Homo sapiens: one gene and its partners. The protein of the gene in region 1 purifies or fractionates together with the protein of each later gene. This does not show direct contact. Each region holds a gene or a part of one and is shown in the gene's direction. Other genes may lie near its edges.

What was found.
Region 2: the proteins of OR10H2 (region 1) and CLCN3 purify together in Homo sapiens (affinity purification with mass spectrometry; one large-scale study listed by BioGRID and IntAct). This does not show direct contact.
Region 3: the proteins of OR10H2 (region 1) and ST7 purify together in Homo sapiens (affinity purification with mass spectrometry; one large-scale study listed by BioGRID and IntAct). This does not show direct contact.
Region 4: the proteins of OR10H2 (region 1) and ATP13A3 purify together in Homo sapiens (affinity purification with mass spectrometry; one large-scale study listed by BioGRID and IntAct). This does not show direct contact.
Region 5: the proteins of OR10H2 (region 1) and AGPAT3 purify together in Homo sapiens (affinity purification with mass spectrometry; one large-scale study listed by BioGRID and IntAct). This does not show direct contact.
Region 6: the proteins of OR10H2 (region 1) and TMEM268 purify together in Homo sapiens (affinity purification with mass spectrometry; one large-scale study listed by BioGRID and IntAct). This does not show direct contact.
Region 7: the proteins of OR10H2 (region 1) and NRP2 purify together in Homo sapiens (affinity purification with mass spectrometry; one large-scale study listed by BioGRID and IntAct). This does not show direct contact.

Annotation. Positions count from the first base shown.
Region 1 is NC_000019.10:15,726,570-15,729,552, forward strand, and holds OR10H2 (olfactory receptor 10H2), read left to right. Parts: upstream 1-1,454; 5' UTR 1,455-1,474; coding exon 1,475-2,422; 3' UTR 2,423-2,483; downstream 2,484-2,983. UniProt on the Homo sapiens protein: Odorant receptor.
Region 2 is NC_000004.12:169,721,578-169,724,173, forward strand, and holds the end of CLCN3 (H(+)/Cl(-) exchange transporter 3), read left to right. Parts: 3' UTR 1-2,096; downstream 2,097-2,596.
Region 3 is NC_000007.14:117,226,001-117,229,500, forward strand, and holds part of ST7 (suppressor of tumorigenicity 7 protein), read left to right. Parts: intron 1-3,500. UniProt on the Homo sapiens protein: May act as a tumor suppressor.
Region 4 is NC_000003.12:194,445,503-194,449,002, reverse strand, and holds part of ATP13A3 (polyamine-transporting ATPase 13A3), read left to right. Parts: intron 1-366; coding exon 367-546; intron 547-993; coding exon 994-1,151; intron 1,152-1,887; coding exon 1,888-2,076; intron 2,077-3,500. UniProt on the Homo sapiens protein: ATP-driven pump involved in endocytosis-dependent polyamine transport. Uses ATP as an energy source to transfer polyamine precursor putrescine from the endosomal compartment to the cytosol.
Region 5 is NC_000021.9:43,871,723-43,875,222, forward strand, and holds part of AGPAT3 (1-acyl-sn-glycerol-3-phosphate acyltransferase gamma), read left to right. Parts: intron 1-3,500. UniProt on the Homo sapiens protein: Converts 1-acyl-sn-glycerol-3-phosphate (lysophosphatidic acid or LPA) into 1,2-diacyl-sn-glycerol-3-phosphate (phosphatidic acid or PA) by incorporating an acyl moiety at the sn-2 position of the glycerol backbone.
Region 6 is NC_000009.12:114,621,291-114,624,790, forward strand, and holds part of TMEM268 (transmembrane protein 268), read left to right. Parts: intron 1-1,012; coding exon of another isoform or gene 1,013-1,210; intron 1,211-2,845; exon of another isoform or gene 2,846-3,016; coding exon of another isoform or gene 3,017-3,059; coding exon 3,060-3,169; intron 3,170-3,500. UniProt on the Homo sapiens protein: Stabilizes cell surface expression of ITGAM and participates in the adhesion and migration of phagocytes during bacterial clearance.
Region 7 is NC_000002.12:205,720,501-205,724,000, forward strand, and holds part of NRP2 (neuropilin-2 isoform 2 precursor), read left to right. Parts: intron 1-1,977; coding exon 1,978-2,208; intron 2,209-3,284; coding exon 3,285-3,440; intron 3,441-3,500.

The DNA of each region.
Region 1 (2,983 bases):
GTGGCTCACACCTATAAATCCCAGCACTTTGGGAAGCTGAGGCAGGCTGATCACTTGAACTCAGAAGTTCAAGACCAGCCCGAGCAACATGGTTAAACCCCATCTCTACTAAAAATACAAAAATTAGCCAGGTGTGGTGATGCGGGCCTGTAATCCCAGCTACTCAGGAGGCGGAGGCAGGAGAATTGCTTGAACCCAGGAGGCGGAGGTTGCAGTGAGCCGAGATCATGCCACTGCATTCCAGCAGGGACAGAGTGAGACTCTGTCTCAAAGAAAAAAAAAAAAAAAAGCGGAATTGTGATAGAGAAAGAGTAATTCACACAGAGCTGGCTCTGCAGGGGACTGGAGTTTTATTATTACTCAAATCAGTCTCCCTGAGCACTTGGGGAGCAGAGTTTTTAAGGACAACTTGGTGGGTGGAGGGGAAGCCAGTGAGCCAGCAGTGCTGATTGGTCAGAGATGAAATCAAAGCTGTCTTCTTGCGGAGAGTCAGTTCCTGGGTGGGGGCCACAAGATCAGTTGAGCCAGTTTATCGACCTGGGTGGTGCCAGCTGATCCATCAAGTGCAGGATCTGCAAAATATCTCAAGCACTGATCTTGGGAGCAATTTAGGGAGGGTCAGAATCTTGTAGCCTCCAGCTGCATGACTCCTAAACCATAATTTCTAATCTTGTGGCTAATGTTAGTTCTACAAAGGCAATCTAATCCCCAGACAAGAAGGAGGTCTGCTTTGGGAAAGGGCTGTTATCGTCCTTGTTCCAAACTATAAACTATAAACTATAAACTAAATTTCCCCCAAAGTTAGTTCACCCTATGTCCTGGAATGAACAAGGACAGCTTGGAGGTTAGAAGCAAGATGGAGTTGGTTAAGTTAGATCTCTTTCGCTGTCTCAGTCATAATTTTGCAAAGGTGGTTTCAATTTTCCAGGGGAGCAATGAGGCTCAGAGAGGGGAAGCAACCTGCCCTGCATCTCACAGCTAGAAAGCAGTGGTGCCGAGAATTAAACAGAGTCTGGACGTTTCCATGACATAGGGAAGAGATGACTTCCAGCTGAAGGTGGCAATCAGGGAGCAGCTTGCTCATAAAATTCAGGTAGGATTTGGACCCATAAAGATAGGGAAAAGCATGAAAAGACCAGCATGAACAAAGGCAGAAAAGCAAGGTGTAGGTGGTGGTGCATGGATCTAATAATCGTGATGGCAATAACAATAGCAGAATAATTATTACTATCAACATTTATAATTTATTAAATTCTTACTTTGTGTCAGGACCTGCACAAAGCACTTAAGGTGAGTGATCTTATTTAAACCTCAATACATTATTATTAATGCCTTTCTGCAGATGGAGTAACCATGGCTTGGACAGATGAAGGAGGCGCTCTCAGATGTCCTCCCAGGCAGGAATCACTAGACACCCCCATGCTCCTAACCACTGGGTCTTCTTTCCTCTCTTCCCCAACTAGGGGTGGCCGTCATGCTGGGGCTAAACCACACCTCCATGTCTGAATTCATCCTCGTCGGCTTCTCTGCCTTCCCCCACCTCCAACTGATGCTCTTCCTGCTGTTCCTGCTGATGTACCTGTTCACGCTGCTGGGCAACCTGCTCATCATGGCCACCGTCTGGAGCGAGCGCAGCCTCCACACGCCCATGTACCTCTTCCTGTGCGTCCTCTCAGTCTCCGAGATCCTCTACACCGTGGCCATCATCCCGCGCATGCTGGCCGACCTGCTGTCCACCCAGCGCTCCATCGCCTTCCTGGCCTGTGCCAGTCAGATGTTCTTCTCCTTCAGCTTCGGCTTCACCCACTCCTTCCTGCTCACCGTCATGGGCTACGACCGCTACGTGGCCATCTGCCACCCCCTGCGCTACAACGTGCTCATGAGCCCACGGGGCTGCGCCTGCCTGGTGGGCTGCTCCTGGGCTGGTGGCTCGGTCATGGGGATGGTGGTGACCTCGGCCATTTTCCAACTGACTTTCTGTGGATCCCATGAGATCCAGCATTTTTTATGTCATGTGCCACCTCTGTTGAAGTTGGCCTGTGGAAATAATGTACCAGCTGTGGCCCTGGGCGTGGGCTTGGTATGTATCATGGCACTGCTGGGCTGTTTTCTCCTCATCCTCCTCTCCTATGCCTTCATCGTGGCCGACATCTTGAAGATCCCTTCTGCTGAAGGTCGGAACAAGGCCTTCTCCACCTGTGCCTCTCACCTTATTGTGGTCATTGTGCACTATGGCTTTGCCTCTGTCATCTACCTCAAGCCCAAAGGTCCCCACTCTCAGGAGGGTGACACCCTGATGGCCACCACCTACGCAGTCCTCACGCCCTTCCTCAGCCCCATCATCTTCAGCCTCAGGAACAAAGAACTGAAGGTTGCCATGAAGAGGACCTTCCTCAGCACACTCTATTCCTCAGGCACCTGAGTAGCTGGTGTGGAAGTGCTGATAGAATATGATAGGAGGATGACCATCACCTTGTCTGCACAGTGTGGCTAGTAATGCTTACCTTGTAAGGCAGGTGTAAAGATTTCTGTATATGACAACACTCATCACATAGTAGGTGCTCAGTAAATGTTAAAAGCATGTTTACTTCCACAACTCTTGATCTGTATGTCTTTATCTGAGTTTTAATTTTTGAGTTATAGTAGCTTTATTAAGATGTAATTCACCTACCATACAATGTACCCATTAGAGCGCACATTTCTGTGGTTTTTGCGTATTCAGAGTTATGCAACCATCATGACAATCTGGCTTAGAGTATTTTAGTCATCCAAAAAAGAAACCCAAATCCTAGTGCTTTGGAAGGCTGAGTGGGAGAATTGTTTGATGTCAGGAATTCACGATCGGTCTGGACAACATAGTGAGATGCCATCTACACACACACACAAACACATACACACACACAAGTTCTTTTTTTTTTAATTTATTACACTTTAAGTTTTAGGGTACATATGCACTACGTACAGGTTAGTTACATACATATAC
Region 2 (2,596 bases), on another chromosome or scaffold:
TAGCAGTTAAAATTTTAATCTGAAAATAACCTTTGAATCTCGGGCTAGGTTACGTCCATATTTGAAGTGGTCAGTGATGGTTTGAACATTTTTTGCAGGATGAGTGAAAATGCACTGGATTATATTTGGGATTTTTGTTTTTGGAATTGTCTGTTTTAATCACAGCCTTAATTCACAATTGGCAAAGGCAGTTTACTCAAAGGACTGGGCTAAATATTCTGTAATTATGCATTTTTGATAGGAAAATGAAATTTTTGCAAACAGACATTTTCTTTTTTTTTGGCTGGAGTGCAGTGGGGCATGGTCTTGGCTCACTGCAGCGTTGACCACCTGGGCTCAAGTGATACTCCCGCCTCAGCCACCCAAGTAGCTGGCACTACGGGCACACGCCACCATGCCCAGCTAATTTTTTTGTATTTTTAGTAGAGATGGGGTTTTGCCATGCTGCCCAGGCTGGTCTCAACTCCTCAGCTCAAGCAATCTGCCTGCGTGAGCCTCCCAAAGTGGTGGAATTACAGGCGTGGGCCACTGCGCCTGGCCCAGACAGACATTTTCTGAAACACAACTGGCAATGAGCTGTTTTTACATTTTGAAAGTGATTCTTCACTTCCTAGTTCTTAATTATAGTATACCTATTAAGATCTGTAAGATCCTGAAGACATAAGATCATGAAGCCATATAAGAATGAGGATTGAAAGTTGAGCAAAATTTTCGGGATTTTGGGAAACATTCTTAGCTGTGCTATCTGCCTAAAATTATTCCTTATTACTTCTCTCCTTTGACAGACTTCAAGTTTTCTTCATAGCCCTTTCAAAGTTTTTTGAGCCATCCAGAGTAAAATCATTTCTAAATGATAGTTCTGTATATCTCCAACTCGTCTTAAGTGTATTTGCCTGTGTGCAACGTATTGCTAGACTATGAACTCCTCAGCATGGCTGCTGGATAACTTAATTGTCCTGAGTTAATAGCCTTCAAAGGACAAATCGGTTTCTTTGCAGATAGCTTCGTAAAACTTCACATGGAGTTTATTTTATCATATTTCCCTTTTTTATTTCTGCTCCTCCTTTAATTGCCCATCTTGCTTCAGAGACTGACATTTCAGGGTGGATATTAATTAAAGCATTAATTTTGTTTTTTGGTATATTTCTATCCCTAGTATTTCTATCTTACTGCTAAAATACAGGAAAAGTGCCGTATTTTTAATGCATTTAGTGGTTTTCTTTGGTGTTATCTGTTCCATTTTTCTTTTTCATACATTGAAGTGTGTCTCCTTTTCAACCAAAATAATGAAATAGTGGAGACCATGAAATTGTTGTGCCTGGCTAATTGGCAAATTAATTTACCAATATAATAAGTGTAGCGCCTTGTTTGAATACCCTTTTTGAGAAGGTATGATGAGAATGGGCAAGGGTGTCAGCATCTCTTCTTCTTAATAATTAATTGTTTTCAGTTTTGGTTCACGAAGAATGCTTAGTTAATCTGTAATGTTGCCTAGAGCTGTATTTATCTGTTTTTATTTATACTAGTGTAGTAAAGCTGCATATCATTACAGTAAAAACGACTACTGTGATGAGTTAATCAGAAAATCTATTAAAATCTATATGACAATGTGTGGTTTGGCCTTTAATTATATCTGTAACAGTCCTCCCTCTTCACTGCTGCCCTACGCAGTGTAGGCCGATATGCCTGGCACAGGGAGCCCCAAAAAGGTAATAATTATAATGCTTCTCTCAGGTTACAAAGCATTTCTACACTTTGCAAGCAAGGAGCAATAGAAGAGTAGATAGATGCTGGATTGACAGCAGGATGTTCATACCACCAGCAATGGTTTAGCGCCCCCATTTGTCAGTGAAAGCTGCAGGTCCACAGAAAACTGATTTCATTTCAGCTCACTTTCAAAAGTGATTTTTTTTTTTTTCGCAAGAAAAATTACGCTATTTGCATGAAAAGAGGTAAAACGATTTATTTACATGTCTTTAAAAAATCACCTTGGACATTTGCTAATAGAACTGCCAAAAGAGGGTGGTAAGTAACAACCTTTGATTAAGATGTGGTCTTTTACTATTAAGCTTTTAGTAAAAAGGAACACACTAAAAGTTCAGAGTAGATCATTTATATTCACTGAGTATTTACTGAGCAATTACTGGGCGCCAGGCGCTATTCTATGTTCTTGAAGTTTTCATTCCAGCAGGAAGAGAAATCTAGAGTATGTCAGATGGTGATAAATATGGATTAGTTCAGCAATTTTAAAAAAGGATTTTTATGTACTGCACACTGTTACGAATATACAAAATCAGTCAAGAATCCTGTTATAGTTTTTGTAATGTACAAAAAGTGAAGGTGTGTGCACCCACCCCATTTTTATAGAGGGTGATCAGGGAAAGCCTCAGGGATAAGGAAGCATTTGAGCAGAAACCTACAGAAAGTTAGAGAAGGACATTTATCCGTGAGAAAAAATGTTGTAAGAAGAGAAAATGCTATATACAAAGGATTCTCCTGCCAGGTTCAAGGAACACTGAGTAGATCACTGTGGCTGGAGAGGGATAAGAGGGAAGAAAGTGGTAAGGAAAGAGGTTGGGGGTGTAGGCATTTGATT
Region 3 (3,500 bases), on another chromosome or scaffold:
AAGGTCAGGATTCTGACCCCTCTGTCTTTCCTTCTCTTGTCTCTCTCCTTCTCCGAGACTGAGCCTCTTGATTTCTGACTCTCATGTTCACTTATAGTCCTCGACCTCTTTGAAGCCTGATATTGATTACCGTGAAATGTCAATTGTCTGATTGCAGTAGGGCACCTGGAAGTTATTCAGATAAGCAGAGGCGTTTTGAATGTTAATGAAGCCTGTTGGGAGCCGTGACCTTCTAAGTGATGGTGTTTCAGGAAAAGGAAGATCAGGCAATTGAAATGTCGTTCTCTTTTTTTACTAGTTCAGTTGCTTTTTCTCACCACGAGACACTCATTGAATCCTAGGGCATTTTGATTAAAGATATGACCATGTATCTCTGCCCTCTGGACAGTTTTAGACATCGAGATAAATAGGCTGTTCCAGGTTTTCTTGGTGTTGCTCATTCAGACTTAACTTTTCAGCAGTAAATTTCCCCCTAAGTCAAGTGAAAACTGCTGTTTCTCCTTCTATATTGGTTGGGTCTCCAACTAAAAAATATTGACTGATTTTCAAACATGCGCAGAAATACAACTGAGCATCCCAAGCAAGTCTGCACCTCCAGACATTTTTTAAAAAATATCTCCTGATGGAGCTTTTATTTGGTTATGAAGTGAAAGGGCTTAGCAGCTTCAGACACCTCACTACATTGCCTGCTCCTTCCTTGCAGGTATGGGATGGAAGGCTTGCTGTGGGGGAAGGTGGCTTAGTAATGAAGGGAGCCCATCTCAACTGGGGCTCGTGGGAGAGTAAATTAGGCCCTCTAGGAAAAAGTTCAAGGGAGTCTTTGTGAATTCTCCCAAGGATGGAACATTCTAGATAGGAGGGATAGAAGCAAATCATTCTATACGTTGGAAGCATTGGGGCTTCGTATTCTTGTGGAACCTTGTTGAGAAGGGCAGGTGTCATCCAGGAAAGAAGGGACCACAGTACTTTGCTGTGCAGCATGGGGAAAAGGGAGCATTTATGGACATCAACCAGGATGAAGCTTTCCTCCTGATTTTCAGAGGCTTCACTTTTGTGCTTTTTATCCAAGTCAGGTTAGTGCCCAAAACAAAGCAAACAAATAAAGGCCTTTATTTTAAGCCAACCTTGTAACATCTCCATTCATTCTACAGCTCAAGGTGAGGCTCCCCGAGGACCCCACATTTTAGTGTGTGTGCATCACCCAGAGTACAGACTTTGAGCGATGCCTGTTATCTAGCTGCGCTGGCTCATGTTCAGCAGTTGCAACAGCTCCATGGCTGCAATGGCTCAATATCAGCAGTTCCTTCCCCACTCAACCACAACTTCAACAGTTCTAAATCTGTTTTTGGCCAAGTCTTCAGGATATAACTTTGCCAGCAATATCACCTTGTTTATTAAGCCCTATCTTCCACCACCTGTCAGAATCTCTGGTTTATCGAGACCACTGTAACACTTTAACTCCTCTTTATGAAGTTGAGCATTATAGACAGATGCTGTGGTTTGTGGAGCCTTGGTAGTCTCTGATTATATATGTGTCTGTGTATGTAGATATACATATACGCAGACATATATAATTATGTATGTACACATATTATGTGTGTATTTCCTATCATGTTGGGTGAATGCAATCAGTAGACTTGTTCCATATTATCCTCTTATAACTAGGATTTTACAAATGCTTTCAGAGTAATTGGGCAGTAATTGCTCATTCCCAGGCCCATTGTCTCCCATGATGCCTTCCAACTGCATTCATGGGTGCTCCCAATCCAGCTCTAAACTGAAAAAGATAGGCCATCTATTCCGTAGGGTGGTTTTGTGCACTCAACAAAGGATAATTTCAGAAGATTATCAGAAACTGCCATGTACCTGGCACCCGCTTGAGGATGGCACCGTCTCCTCTTTGCTCAAGCACTGACATGGCTGCCTGTTTCTTAACTGCAGATCCAACCTGACACGCAGGGCCCTCCCCAGTATCCTTCTAGCCACTTTTGAACTCTACTTCTTCTAACTGTCCTAGCTAAACTGAACCATTTACTACCTTCTGGTAATAGTGTTGCTTTTCCATTTCTCTTTGACTGTTTATTGAGCCTGGAGGGCCCACCCTGCTCCTATTTCTTCCTTTACCATCCTTACTCCATCTCTCTCTTTTGATATTCCAAGCATCCACTGGAGTCCATTTCACTTGCCTCTTTCTCAAAAGTATTCCTGCTCCTTTCAACAGAATGGATTCTCTCCCTTTTCCAATCCCAGTGCTTTGTTTGGGCCTCTATCCTGATTGCCATCACAGCCTATCTCATTATTAGTTTGCTCTGTCCAGATCTTCGTGGCCCCCTCCATCACTGGGCTTTGAGCTTCCTGACAGTGGGAGTTTAGTTTTGAACTACACCCCTTTATATTTCACCCAGCACTTAAGTGCCTTACTAAATAAATACATTTAATTGGTGTAAAACACAGATTGGAGAAGGATCCCAAATTTTACGCTGTCTTGATTTTGCATTATATGGATCTCGCATTTGATGATCTGGCTATTTTGTGTTACCTGCCTTCCCAGTGTGTGTTCTACTGGTCCAAAAACAAAATGAAACAACAGGACAGATTCTGGGTCAGCAAATTTGGGAAACTTGCCCACCATACCTCTTCTCGAAGACCCACAGTCCACAGAACATTTACCTAGTAAAGGAGCCTGATTTAACTTTATTAAATATACTAAATTTGCTTGACCTCAGAACTATGATCCCCTCTGCATTATATACACACACACTGCACTACACTTCTATGAGAAATTCTTGGTAGTGTAGATGGTGCTGTGTAATGGACAAGGGCTTAGGACAAAGGGCTCCATGGTACAAGAACCAGGTGTTGAACCCCAGTAAGACAATACCTGGGTTCTGAGCAGAGAGAGGGCAATGAAACCATCCCAACAACTCTCTCTTCCCTGACTGGGATAGGGCACCTCTTCTGCCAGATGCTGGATGGGGTGTGGAATGAAACTGATTCTTCACAAGAACAGAATTAGAATGGATTTGAGAATATTTTAATAAGTATCTCATGTGAAGCACTTGGCTTTCTTAAAAGACACAGCTAATGAGCTTTATTCTCTACATGAAAAGCAGAAAGGAATTTAGTAACCAAATGAAAGAGTTCCCAGAGGTGCACTCGGAACAGCCCCTTAACAAGGATCTGTCCTCCATGGAATAGCCCGTTTGCCGCCTTCTCCCAGGGTCCCAGGCATGCTGCTAAACATGTGGCTCAGAAAGGAGCCCACGCTGGTGTCTGGGAGGCAGTAGGACCGCAAAGAAATTCATACACAACACACTTGACCTGTAAAATTGCCATTTCCATTTAAAGTGAGCTCTACACCCAGCTAGATGAGCAGCTGGTCTAAGTTGTCACCATTTTTTAACTCTTGTGCCCACTTGCCACCAATCTGTCATTCCTGTTTGACGACACCAGTCATCTGCATGGCAGCTGGCAGATGCTAAAGACTAGCAGGAAGACCT
Region 4 (3,500 bases), on another chromosome or scaffold:
GCTTTCCACTGTTACCATTAGTTCTTAGAGGTGCAGGGACTATAGCAACTACTTAATCTTTTTTGAAATTATTTGAAACTGAACAATGCAACTGTTTCTAAATATAAACAAATATTACCTTTGAGCCACAAATCACTTTCTGGAATTATTGTGGGAGATAATATTTGATACTTCTATGTGAGGAAATTGGTAGACAAAAAATTAAGCCATGTTGTCCACATATACAACTCTCAGTGATTATTGTAAACAGTATGGTAGCATTTAAAATATTTAACAATTTAATATTTTTTGGTGTTCGATACTGATTCCTGTGCTTTCGTTTAATAATTTGTAAACTGTTTTTGTTGTTGTTGTTGTTTTTTAAAGGAGAAAGTGTTCCAGTGACAAAGACTAATTTGCCAAATCCTTCAGTGGATGTGAAAGGAATAGGAGATGAATTATATAATCCAGAAACACATAAACGACATACTTTGTTTTGTGGGACAACTGTTATTCAGACTCGTTTCTACACTGGAGAACTCGTCAAAGCCATAGTTGTTAGAACAGGTAGGAAACATCTTAATTAATCTCTTTTTGCATGTTTCAGCATATTTGATACCTACTAAATGTTTAAAAAGAGATTCTGGGCTGGGTGCTGTGGCTAACGCCTGTAATCCCAGCACTTTGGGAAGCCGAGGTGGGCGGATCATGAGGTCAGGAGATTGAGACCATCCTGGCTAACATGGTGAAACCCCGTCTCTACCAAAATTACAAAAAAATTAGCCGGGCCTGGTGGCGGGCGCCTGCAGTCCCAGCTACTCGGGAGGCTGAGGCAGGAGAATGGCGTGAACCCAGGAGGCGGAGCTTGCAGTGAGTCGAGATCACACCACTGTACTCCAGCCTGGGTGACAGAGCGAGACTCTGTCTCAAAAAAAAAAAAAGAGAGATTCTGTTTTGGGAGATAATTCTCATTTTCTTATAAAAATATCAATAATTGTCTTCTTTTTTTGAAAGGATTTAGTACTTCCAAAGGACAGCTTGTTCGTTCCATATTGTATCCCAAACCAACTGATTTTAAACTCTACAGAGATGCCTACTTGTTTCTACTATGTCTTGTGGCAGTTGCTGGCATTGGGTTTATCTACACTATTATTAATAGCATTTTAAATGAGGTATGTATGTGGGACTCTTAATAGGGTTTGAACCTCAATTATTTATCATATGCAGCTATTGAGGATTTGAAATGTGGCTACTGAGAATGAGGAACTAAAATTTTAAGCTAATTTAATTTTAATTAATTTAATGCTAACAAAGTCATGAGACTAGTAGCTATGATATTAGAAAGCCCAGCTATAGAACATTTCCATTGTAAAGGATACTTCTTTTGGGTGCCTCTGGTTTAGATGGTCTTTTACTTGGTCTTGTGACTTTAAAAAAAAAAAACAGGAAAAAAAACCCCCCCACATAATCACCAAAAGCTTTATTTTCTCTTTTTTACCTCTGAGATGTAATATACAGTGTTAAAATGATTTGTGGTTAGTTAATTGAAGGCGCCGCTTGTCAGAAGTGGAGAGTGGTACAGTAAGGTGTGTGCACGCTGAGTCAATATCTGATAATGATTGTTGACCGGCTTTGAAGTGTGTCATGTGTGAAGTATGTAGCGCCTTGAAAATGAGATAAGTTTCTTTTGAAAGTAGCTGTCATTCTATAATCCATTGAGCTTTTTTATTTTGCAGAAATATCTGAAGAAAAAAATTATATATGGTTAATAGATATGTATATACACACACATACATAAAATTGAAATATACAATTGAAAATGGCTTACAGATTTTCACTAAAGAAATACCCATATTAAATCCGTAAATAATACTGGGGATTTGACATTTATTTTTGTGTTAATTGTAGGTACAAGTTGGGGTCATAATTATCGAGTCTCTTGATATTATCACAATTACTGTGCCCCCTGCACTTCCTGCTGCAATGACTGCTGGTATTGTGTATGCTCAGAGAAGACTGAAAAAAATCGGTATTTTCTGTATCAGTCCTCAAAGAATAAATATTTGTGGACAGCTCAATCTTGTTTGCTTTGACAAGGTGGGTTCAGTTTCATAGTTACTTTCAAAGGTTACTTCGTAGCGTTTAAATATTTAGATCAATGTTTTTTATTTTCTTTGTCAACAAATTTGGACACATTCTGTCATGTTCCTCTAATTTTCCTTTTCCTCCACTTATTTGGTATATGCATCATTTTTCTATACCATAAGTTCTCACTTAACATTACTGATAGGTTCTTGAAAACTGCAACTTTAAATGAAATGAAACCAGTTTTACCATAGGCTAATTGATACAAATGAGATTTAAGTTCCTATGCCATATTTTGGTCACAAAAAATCACCAAACTTCTAAATAAAGATCTAAAACACTTCTGATATTAATCATTGAAATAAATATGAGCTATACATTCATTTAAGAAAGAAATAAAAACAAGTAAGGTAATTATTTACCCAGTTGTTTTATTTCAGGCTCCTGGGTAGTGGGAGCGTATCTCAGCAACTGGCGGAACGAGGCAGGAACCAGCCCTAGACAGGATGCCATCGTATCGCAGGGTGTACTCACACTCGCGCAGACTGGGACCATTTAAATGTGCTGGTTCACTTAACTTGCGTAGCTTTGATGTGGGAGGAAACTGAAGTACCTGGAGTGAAACCCATGCAGACAGGGAGAGAACATGCAAACTCCATGTAGATAGTGGTCGCGGCTGGGCCTCAGCTCTCCCCACCACTGGCACCCATCGTGTTATAAAAAAAGACGGACAAAACAATCGTATTTGAGGACATGCTATATTTCTTATTTTCTCAATTTTTAATACTTTGGATATTGCTTATTTGCTCAAAGCTTCAGTTAACTCCAGAATTAGGCCTAGTAGTATTAATAGTAGTAGCAGTAAAGATTACGTGACCTTTAATTTTTTAGACAGTAATTCTTATTTAACACAATAGGCTCCATACATATATATTTATTATGATTTTATTGCTTGTAAGTGTGTATGTTTAGTGTTTGCTGTATGATTTTATTGAATATGTTTAAGAATTATGAAGGTCACTGATTTTATGTGAAAATGACAAATTATGTACCTGTGTGAAGTATATCTTGCCTCTTAGAAAGGTTTCTCCTTTCCTGAGCTGGAATTTTCTTTAAAGTTTTCTGAGAATTAAACTTTGACCAGAAAACCTTCTATCAAACTTTTCTGGGTAACTGATGTGATACAAATTTGATTTTTGTGCATTTCATTATTACAGAAAAAAATGGGAAACATGTTCTGTTAGAAAAAAATATGTCACATACTGCTACAATTATTTCATATTTATCAGTTCAAAAAATTTCACTTATGCTTGTCTTTTTTGGAAACTTTCCTAAAAGTTTTAAGACAAAAGTGGAGAAAAGATGTGTGTATAATAAACACTCATTTACTCATTACCCAGCTTTATCAGTTATCAACACATTGTCAGTCTTATTTT
Region 5 (3,500 bases), on another chromosome or scaffold:
TTCTTTTGGGTGATGTCTTTTTCTCACCTATTCCTTATATATAGTTTCCATATTATATATTTCCTTATAGATTCAGGATGTTCATCTTTGGCTGTAATGTGTGCATTATATATTTTTCCCAGTTGGGTTTTATCTTTTCACTTTTTTTGTTTTGGTGAAAAGATAGTTTTAATGTAATGTATAATTTTATCCATCCTTCTTTTCTAGGTAGTGCCTTTTGCATGTTACTTTAAGTTCTTCCCAATTCTTGGGTCACAAATGTATTCTGTATTTTTCTGTAGAAGTTGTAAAGTTTGCTTTCTCTGCTTAAGCCCTTTATCTCTCTAGAGTTGACTGTGCAGGTCTTCCGAGGTGTCTTTTGATAAAGCACCGTGGTATTTCACATTCCACCTGACACTCTGTGCTTACATTTATTCCCAGGTGCCCTTATTATTGTTCTTGCTTTTGTAAATGGTGTTTTTTTTTTTTTTTCTTTTGAGACAAAATCTTGCTCTGTCACCCAGGCTGGAGTGCAGTGGCAGGATCTCAGTTCACTGCAACCTCTGCCTCCCGGGTTCAAGTGATTTTCCTGCTTCAGCCTCCCGAGTAGCTGAGATTACAGGCATACGCCACCATGCCTAGCTAATTTTTGTATTTTTAGTAGAGACAGGGTTTCACCATGTTGGCCAGGCTGGTCTCGAACTCCTGACCTCAAGTGATCCACCCACCTCGGCCTCCCAAAGTGTTGGAATTACAGGCGTGAGCCACCGCGCCGGCCGTAAATGGTGTTTTTTATTTTTATTGATTTCTAAGTCTTTGCTGGTGTTCTGTAGAAATGCAGTTGACTTTTGGGTATTGATTTAACAGCTGATCACCTTGCCATTGCTTAAAATTTATTTGTAGATTTTGGGGATTTTCTCAGTAGACATTCACGTCATGTGGGAGTGGTGAAGACTCTGTTTCTTCCTTATATCTTTCGTATTTTTCCTTCCTGTTTTGCTGCCTGGGCCAGGCCCTCCTGAGCAGGGCTGTATGGAAGTGTGACAGGCCATCCTTGTCCTGTTCCTGATTTTAGGGAAATGCTTCTACCATGCTGCCTTCCGGTGTGGGTACAAACAGTGGCCGTTTAGTTCTGAATCGTCCCACTCTGCCTCCTTGAAGCAGAGGAGGCCTGGTGTGAGAAATACAAACAAAGTGACCCAAAAGCAAGGAGCTGGAGAGATGGAAGATCCACTGTCATGGGTCACCGGGAAGACGCAGAAACAAAACCACAGAGAGCTGCGGCCTCCCCCTGCCGGGACGGCGAAACTTAAAAGACTGTGGGGACAAGTGCTGGAGAAGATGTGGGGGCAGACAGAGCACTGGTGCCAGCGTGGCTGCTTTGGGAATGGCAGGAGCTGCAGGGAGATGGCATCGAGTGGCGGGTGCACCTGCCGTGTGCTTCCCGGGGGACATGCTGAGGTGCTCATAGTGGCATGGGTGTTGGAGTCAGACCCCGGGAGCTCTCTCAATGCCTGTCTCCAAATAAAATGAAAAATAACCTCGTGCTACATTCGCCATGGAAAGGGGAAGGAAGGAGCTCCTCCAGGCCGCAACATGTGTGCGCCTCCGGAGGATAACGCTGGGTGGAAGGAGTGAGCCGCAGAAGTGTATGCAGCACCTGACTTCATCAAGGTAAAGCACGCGCACCAGCAAAACCCATGTGCCCTGAGGACTCCGGCTCTAGTACCTGGAAGGAGAACACAGGGCTTCTGCATCCTCTGCCTCCCGGGTTCAAGCGATTCTCCTGCCTCAGCCTCCCGAGTAGCTGGGATTACAGGCGCGCACCACCACGCCTGGCTAATTTTTGCATTTTCAGTAGAGACGGGGTTTCACCATGTTGGCCAGGCTGGTCTCGAACTCCTGACCTCAGGTGATCCTCCCACCTTGGCCTTCTAAAATGCTGGGATTACAGGCGTGAGCCACTGCGCCCAGCCCAAGTTGTCAGTTTCTTGATACAAAGGTCAGAATATTTTCTTAATTTTTAAATCTCTACTATATCTGACAGTAAATCACCCTTTTCATTCCTAAAATGGTTTTACCTTTCTTTTCTAGATTCATCTCACAGAGGCTCATCTTTTTTATTAGTGTTCACAAAGAACCAGCTATCAGTCTTACTCATTTTCTCCACTGTGTCTTTGTTTCCGTATCACTAATTTCTGCTCATTGTCAGGATTTCCTTCTACACTCTTTGGGTTTATTCTGGTGTTCTCTTTCTAGGTTACTGAATTGAAACATTTTCTTTTCTATTTTCTCTAAGCTTAGTTTCTTAATTTTCAACTTTCTGTCATAAGTATTTTATTATTATTTTTTGAGACAGAGTCTCCCTCTGTCACGCAGGCTGGCGTGATCTCGGCTCACTGCAACCTCCGCCTCCCGGATTCAAGTGGTTCTCCTGCCTCAGCCACCTGAGTAGCTGGGATTATAGGCGTGTGCCACCATGCCTGGCTAACTATTGTATTTTTAGTAGAGACAGGGTTTCACCATGTTGGCCAGGCTGGTCTTGAACTCCTGACCTCAGGCAATCCGCCCACCTCGGCTTCCCCGAGTGCTGGGATTACAGGCATGAGCCACCACGCCCGGTCCTGTCATAAGCATTTAAGTCTATGTAGCTTTCCTACTTAGTTCTGCTGTACTGTCGTCTTGTTTATTTTGATATGTAATATTTTCATTGTTCAGCATTTTACAATTTTATTATTCTTCCATGACCCATGAATGCATTTATGTCCAAAGGCATTGAGGATTTTAGGTTGTTTTTATTATGATTTCAGCTGAAAAGCCTCATGGGCAGAGGGATATAGTCTGTATAGCACTGAGTCTCTGGCATTTCTTTAAGGATTGAATTCTATTATGTATCTTCTGGCTTATAAAGTTGCGGTTAGGAAGCCAGCTGTCATTTCAATTGTCCTTCCTGTGTCAGTAGTAAGCTTTTTGTCTGGCTGCTTTTATAGTCTCTTTATTTCTGGTGTTTTTCAACTTGACTGTGGTCTTTCTAGCATGGATTTCTTTTTGTTTATCCTGTTTTGGATTCATTGTACTTTCTGAAGATAAAGTATCATGTCTTTCAGCAATTCTGGAAAATTTTCAGCCATTATTTTGTTCAATACAGTCATTCTGCGGTATCCACTAGGGATTGGTTCCAGAACCCACCATGGATACCAAAATTAGTGGATGCTTAAGTTCCTGATATAAAATGGTGTCGTATTTGTATATAACCTGTGCACATTCTCCCATATATGTATTTTTTTCTTTGTTTTTGAGATGGAGTCTCACTCAGTCGCCCAAGCTGGAGTGCAGTGGCACGATCTTGGCTCACTGTAACCTCCGCCTCCCAGGTTCAAGCAATTCTCCAGCCTCAGCCTCCTGAGTAACTGGAATTACAGGCGCCCACCACCACGCCTGGGGTAATTTTTGTATTTTTAGTAGAGAAGGGGTTTCACCATATTGGCCAGGCTGGTTTTGAACTCTGACCTCATGATCTG
Region 6 (3,500 bases), on another chromosome or scaffold:
AGCCATGTTAGTGTCACTGCACTCCAGCCTGGGTGACAGAGTGAGATGCTGTCTCAAAAAAAAAAAAAAGAAAAAGAACCTTTTCCTATCTTATTAATTTGTTTATACACCAAACGTGTATTTAATGTGCCTCCTGTTTGTATCAGATCAGGGGATTCAGTGATGAACAAACCAGTGTGAGAGTGTATAGTCTGGTGGAAAAGATAGATTTTATTCAAGTAATTTCATGCATATGTAATCAAATAATTGCATACATAGGTATTTAGCTTGGGCGAGTATTAAGGAGAAGAGCGTCAGTTATGGTAGGTTTAGCAGAGGATTTGATCAGTTAGGAGTTTAGAGTGTCAAGGAGGCCTCTCTGGGGAAAGTGAATCATGAGCTGGGATACAAATGATGCATGGGCTGTAACTGGGTGAAGCTAGGTAGACGTGTCCTAGAGAGAGGAACAGTATATGCAAAGGCCCTGGGGTGGGGGAGAACATCATGTTCAGGGACTGAAGGAGGCGGGTGTGGTGAGACATAGAACGAGGCTGAGGGGCTCAAGCTGAGTCTGGCAGGAGGCTAGTTTTCCTAAGGGCTGGAAGAACGTGGTAACAAGGTTGGCTTTTGCAAAGCAACAGGAAGCGATTGAAAGTTTTCTCAAGGCATTGGTGTCATCTGATCTGCACCCTGGCCACTGTGTGGAAGATGCATTGTAGAAGTAAAGGTAGGTTTGCAGCAGAAGCCACTTAGGAGGCTACTGCAGAGGGCCAAGGGAGAGGTGAGGATGCCAGGAGGGCACAGAGTGGACAGATGTTTTGTTTGCCTAGTTGGCAGGGCTTGGTGATACATTGGGGGAGCAGGGAGAGAGAGGGTTTGGATAGGCCAGGAATTTCCTGGAAAGTGGAGTGAGTCATTTGGCTTTGAAGACTCAAGTACTGTTCAGAGCTAGACTGGGGTGACAGGAGTTTTGGATCAGCAGACAACACACTTATGCTTTAATCTCTTCTGTCCTGCCTCATTGTCTAAGCAGCCGCCATAGAGAATATGCCAAAATATCCAGTCCTCAGCAGTGCATGGCTGAAACCTGGGATCCTAGAATCCCAGGGCTGGAATCTCTCCCACCCCCCAGACCTCCTGGCTGCTGACCAGTGGCTCACAGGGCCTTGTACTGTGGTGCAAGGAGATCTCGATCCTTTTGTCCAGTTTCTCTACTTGGAACTGCAGGCAGGTAGGTTTGGCTTTGTGCTGCTGCCATTCCTCCCTGGTCTTGAGGGGATTTCAGTCCAGACTTTTCTCTCCAGCTGGTCTCATGGTCTGGCTTCATCCTACCCTTGGAGGGCGGGGGCTTTGGTAGCAGTTGTGAGCAGCCTGGGTTGATGCGTGTTTTTTGAGGGAATAAACACGTATTTTATGCTTTTGAAATGCGGAGTGTGTTGCAGCCATACGTAGGAGGGATTACAGTAAATCAGTGTATTAGTTTTCTATTGCTGCTATAACAAGTTACCACTAACATACTGGCTTAAAACCACGGATTTGGGCCAGGTGCAGTGGCTCATGCCTGTAATCCCAGTACTTTGGGAGGCCGAGGCGGGCAGATAACATGAAGCTGGGAGTTTGAGACCAGCCTGGCCAACATGGCGAAACTGTGTCTCTACTGAAATACAAAAATTAGCCAGGCATGGTGGTGCATGCCTGTAATCCCAGCTACTTGAAAGGCTGAGGCACAAGAATCACTTGAACCTGGGAGGTGGAGATTGTAGTAAGCTGAGATCGTGCCACTGCACTCCAGCCTGAGTGACAGAGAGAGACTCTGTCTCCAAAAAACAACAACAACAACAACAACAACAACAAGCCAAACCAACCACAGATTTGTTATTTATTTATTTATTTATTTTGAGATGGAGTTTCATTCTTGTTGCCCAGGCTGGAGTGTAATGGCGTGATCTCGGTTCACTGCAACCTCCACCTCCCAGGTTCAAGCAATTCTGCCTCAGCCTCCCCAGTAGCTGGGATTACAGGCACGTGCCACCACGCCCGGCTAATTTTTGTTTTTAGTAGAGACAGGGTTTCACCATGTTGGCCAGGCTGGTCTCGAACTCCTGACCTCAGGCGATCCATCTGCCTCGGCCTCCTAAAGTGCTGGGATTATAGGTGTGAGCCATTGCACCCAGCTGGATTTGTTATTTCATAGTTCTGTAAGTTAGATGTCTGACACTGATCTCACTGAGCCGAAATCCCCTTGGTGGCAGGACTGTTTTTCTTTCTGGAGGCTCTGGGGAGAATCCATTTCCTTTCCTTGTCCAGCCCCTTGGGGCCACCCACATTCCCTGGCTCATGGCCCTCTCCCTCCATGGTCAAAGCGATCGATGCCACATCCCTCCTTGCCTTTCATCCATAGTCAAATCTCCCTCTGACTCTACTTCTGTCCCGCTTTTCCACGTTTAAGGTTCCTTGTGATTTCATGGGGCCCACCCGGATGATTCAGGATAGTCTCCCTATTAAAGGCCAGCTAATGAGCCCCCTTACTTCCACCCTTTGCCATGGAAGGCAGTATATTTGCAGGCTCTGGGGATTAGGGTGTGGACATCTTTGGGGCCATTGTTCTGCCTACTGTGACCAGTTATTTCTTACTTAGACTCTCTGAGCCTACTGGGAATTTAACTTATTCAGCTGAGCATTCTTTGCAATGCTTAAATAAAGGTCCACTGCATCACCCCCCTCAATGTAGTTTTTCAGTCTCTGTTTAAATATTCCTTGTGTTGGGGAACATTTTTTTGTGGGGACAAAAAATGCCTATTTTTTATGGGGACAGCTTTTGCTCTTGGAAAATTCTTCCTTATATGGTCTCACATTGTGGTCCTAGGAGCCTCCTCCCTCTGGCCTTAATTCTGCCTCCTGGGGGCTTCCCAGTCAAATCCAGTCCTTCTCTCAAGAGGATTTGAGGATGGCCACCGTGTCCCTCCTTGTTGCGAGGAGGTTCTCATGGCCAGAGGTGTGATGCCGCCAGGCTTCGGGCTCACCCCACGAGCCTGGTATGGTTATCACTCAGCCAGATGAAGCTTCTGGTCTGCTTCCAGAGCTCCACAATGGCCAGGTCCTCACTGTTCTCCGGATTGACAATACCTGTGCACCCATCTCCTTCGACCTGGGAGCCGCAGAAGAGCAACTGCAAACTTGGGGCATCCAGGTGAGTGCTGATTTCCTTGAATCCCTACCATTTTCTCTTTCATCCATTCATCCCTCTATCTTTTCATCCAGTTTTTCACAAAATCTTTATGAAACAGTCTGTACCAGCTGTCGTAGGGTATATAAGGAAGGTATATTAGAAGTGCCCTCTCTTTCCTCTCTTCCCGGTTAACTCACTTAACAAATGTGTATTTTTTTGGGTGCCCACTCTGTGCCAGGCACTTAACTGGCTAAACATAATAGGGGTGGACAGGACACAGTACCTATGTCCACAGATCCCAGCGGGGAAGATGGACGTGTGTGGGAGAAATTGGGACAGTATCATATAAATG
Region 7 (3,500 bases), on another chromosome or scaffold:
TTCTAAGGGAATGACAATAGAGCAAGCTCTAAGAGGGCATGTCAGGATGCTCTTTCTAGCTCTCAAGCAAGAAGTGAATAGAGAGTTAATTTCCTCACAACCATGTGTGAGGCTCAGCTGAGTGGCCCGCATGAAGAATGCTGCACAGCAGCCATAAACTCTAACCTTTTCAAAATTCCTCTTGGCCCCCTGAAGACCCGCCAGCTGGCTTGGCTTTGCTGAATTGCCTCATCCCGGGCCATTGAGGAGGCCCTCAGGAGTCCGAAGCCCAATCATAAACAAAGCTGGGGGAGGCAGCCCCAGCTCATCCCTCCAGGACTAGCTGCCCATTGAAAACTCGGCCTGACCTGCTGCTGCCATGCATATGAATGATGGGGTGCAGAGCCTCTGAGATTCGCTGCTTAGAGCCTCCACAGAACCCATGCAAAGGTTAGCCCTTGCCCTCGTGTGTTCCTAGTCCCTACCCTGCCAAAGCACAGCACAAGGTGGAAAGTAGGAAGTGATGGATGGATAGGTAGGAGATACTGGAATTTTCTGTCTGGTGCTGAAGAAAGTTGCAACTCCTCCATCCGCATTTATTTGCATGGCACTTCTTCCAAATCAGACATTTGCCTCTTTCCAGAATGCTGTCATCAATAAAGAGACTCAATGAGAGGCCCCCTACAGGAGCTGCGGATAAAGGCATCGCTGCAGGCTCAGATCAGTGTATTGACATCACCTAGTTATATTTCAGTGTGAGCCCCAGAGGACACTTCCTGACAGTAAACACCCAGTTTATCGAGTATTTCTGGTTGGTTGTGTTTTTTATGCTTAGAGTGTCTATTATCCTCCTCAAAAATCCTGCTTCCTTTTCTTCTTTTAAAATCTGAACATAACGAGTGAAATCAATTCTAATTGTCCAGCACTTTCATTCATTGCGTGAATGTGCATGAGCTCGTGCTTCGTGGGTCCATGGGTCTGGGTTGCAGTGCTCCCGGGACCCATCTGTGGTGCTGCCCTGGCAAATGGTGGCTGGTTAAAGCACAAGGACCCTTTTAATATGACTCCACCTAGAGGCATTAAGAGATAGGGTGGCTGTAATCCTCTTATGAGCTCCTGTTCCTGCTCCTGCTGCCATCCAAGCTCGCACCAGGATGCGAATGTGTGCCGCATTTAATCAGGATGCCTCCATGCGTCCCAAGAAAGCAGACGCAAGAGCTCAGGAGAGAAACAAGGCCATCCACACCACAAAGGAGCCAGAAGCCTTCCAAATGTCAATGCACTGCTGCATTTTTCCAAACTTGTTGCCGGAGCGGCCTTTAACATCCCCAACGGCCTGCTGTGATCCACCAGCTAAAAACATCGATTGTTAATTGTCCGACCACTACAGAGCAGCTCGTTTTAATATAGTCATGACATGAATGAGACCCAAGCTCCCCTTTGCCCCTCCCCTGAGGCACCTTGGATCTTGGAGGGAGAAGGGGGCACTTCGTTGGCTGTGGTACAATAGGGGCTAGTGTTGAGGTCAGCAACAAATAAGGGGTAACATTGTTTTCCCTGCTGGCAATCAGCAAGGCTTCCTTAAGGATTGAAATAACTTACATTTCTGGAGTGAGCAGCTGAGTAATTGAGAAAGAAGACTCTGTTCCTCTTTTCAAGAGAATCCCTCTCTCTCTCTCTCTCTCTCTCTCATACACACACACACACACACACACACACACACACACACACACTTCTCTGTACCTCCACCCCACTCCCCAATTCCTCAATTGCTGCTCTCACTCTAATAATTATGTAGAGCAAGCCAGCTGTGCCTCCCTAATTTATGAGGGCTTGAAACGTGCATGTGAAGAGTATGTTGCTTCAAGGGCCACTCCAGTAGCAACAAAAACCTCAAGAGCAGGGGGATTTGGGGCCAAACATTTAAATAACCCATGTGACAGAGGCCACAAAGAAAGGCATCTTCTTCTTAGTGCTACAGTTCTCTTTTACATACAGGCTCTGAAGATTGCTCAAAAAACTTCACAAGCCCCAACGGGACCATCGAATCTCCTGGGTTTCCTGAGAAGTATCCACACAACTTGGACTGCACCTTTACCATCCTGGCCAAACCCAAGATGGAGATCATCCTGCAGTTCCTGATCTTTGACCTGGAGCATGACCCTTTGCAGGTGGGAGAGGGGGACTGCAAGTACGATTGGCTGGACATCTGGGATGGCATTCCACATGGTGAGTGATGTCATGAGGCATTCCTCAGTAGCTTGGCCTTTGCCTGTTAATTGCTTTAGTGATGATAAAGAGGAAGAACAAAGACTTCAAAGCTCCTATGAGTTCTTATATGACCCATGGTGACTTTCTCTTCTTCCCCTTCACTAAGGATAGCTTGAGAGAAATTACAGGAAGGCTGTCTACTTTCTTGGAAATATTTCTTTAGAAAAGGATAGGAGACTAAATAGATACTTGGAAAGGATGAGAAAACTTAAAGTGTTCATTTCTACTCCAAATTGTCAGGATAGAAGGTGGCTCAGTGGCTAACCCCTGTGACAAAACAGAAGGACTCCAGAGCCAGACTGGCCGGGCTTAACTCCCGGCTCTGCTACTCCCCAGCTGTGCAACCTTAGACAAATCCCTTACCCTATCTGTGCCTTATCTGTGTTAAGTTAGCTGCTATCATCATCATTATTACTATAATTTTAAAATTGTCATTAATATAGTCATAAATATTGAAAAGGTACATCACCCAAGGCTAACAGCCACCAGTACTTCGCAGGTGAAGACCAACATGGATCTTGGGTCTAATTAGTATTGGAGAGGAACAAATCTTTCACTTTTGTAGTCATTGTAAGTTTTTTCTAATATAAAGGAGACTTGATGACTAAGCAAAAAGAGCAATTTCATTTCCTGGGTAAATCACAAGACTTAGTCAGAAAACTTGGGTTGTAGGCCCAGCTCTGCTATTTCCTAGCAGTAAGAATAAAGAAATCACATGCGCTCTCCAAACTTCAGTTTCTTCCTCTGTAGAACAGACATTGTAATGATACCTTTCCAGCTCATCTTCCAGGCCACTGAGAACAGAATGAAGCCAGTGAAAGTGGCCTGTACCTTTTTAATGAAAAAGTGAAAGTGCTTTTTGATGTGCAGGAAAAATATTAGCCATTGTTCTTGAAACATATCTTTGGTTTTTATGGCAAGATGTACAAAGTGTGCTCCACTGAATGAAATGCAATGAGGGGAAGGGAAAACGGAGTGAAAACCAAGTTTGACATTTTGATTTCCACTGACTTCTCTTTGTCTTGAATGTCCAGTTGGCCCCCTGATTGGCAAGTACTGTGGGACCAAAACACCCTCTGAACTTCGTTCATCGACGGGGATCCTCTCCCTGACCTTTCACACGGACATGGCGGTGGCCAAGGATGGCTTCTCTGCGCGTTACTACCTGGTCCACCAAGAGCCACTAGAGAGTGAGTTGGCCGATTGGGAACCTCTGTCCTGTCCTTCCGTCAGGGCTGTGAGGGTGTACA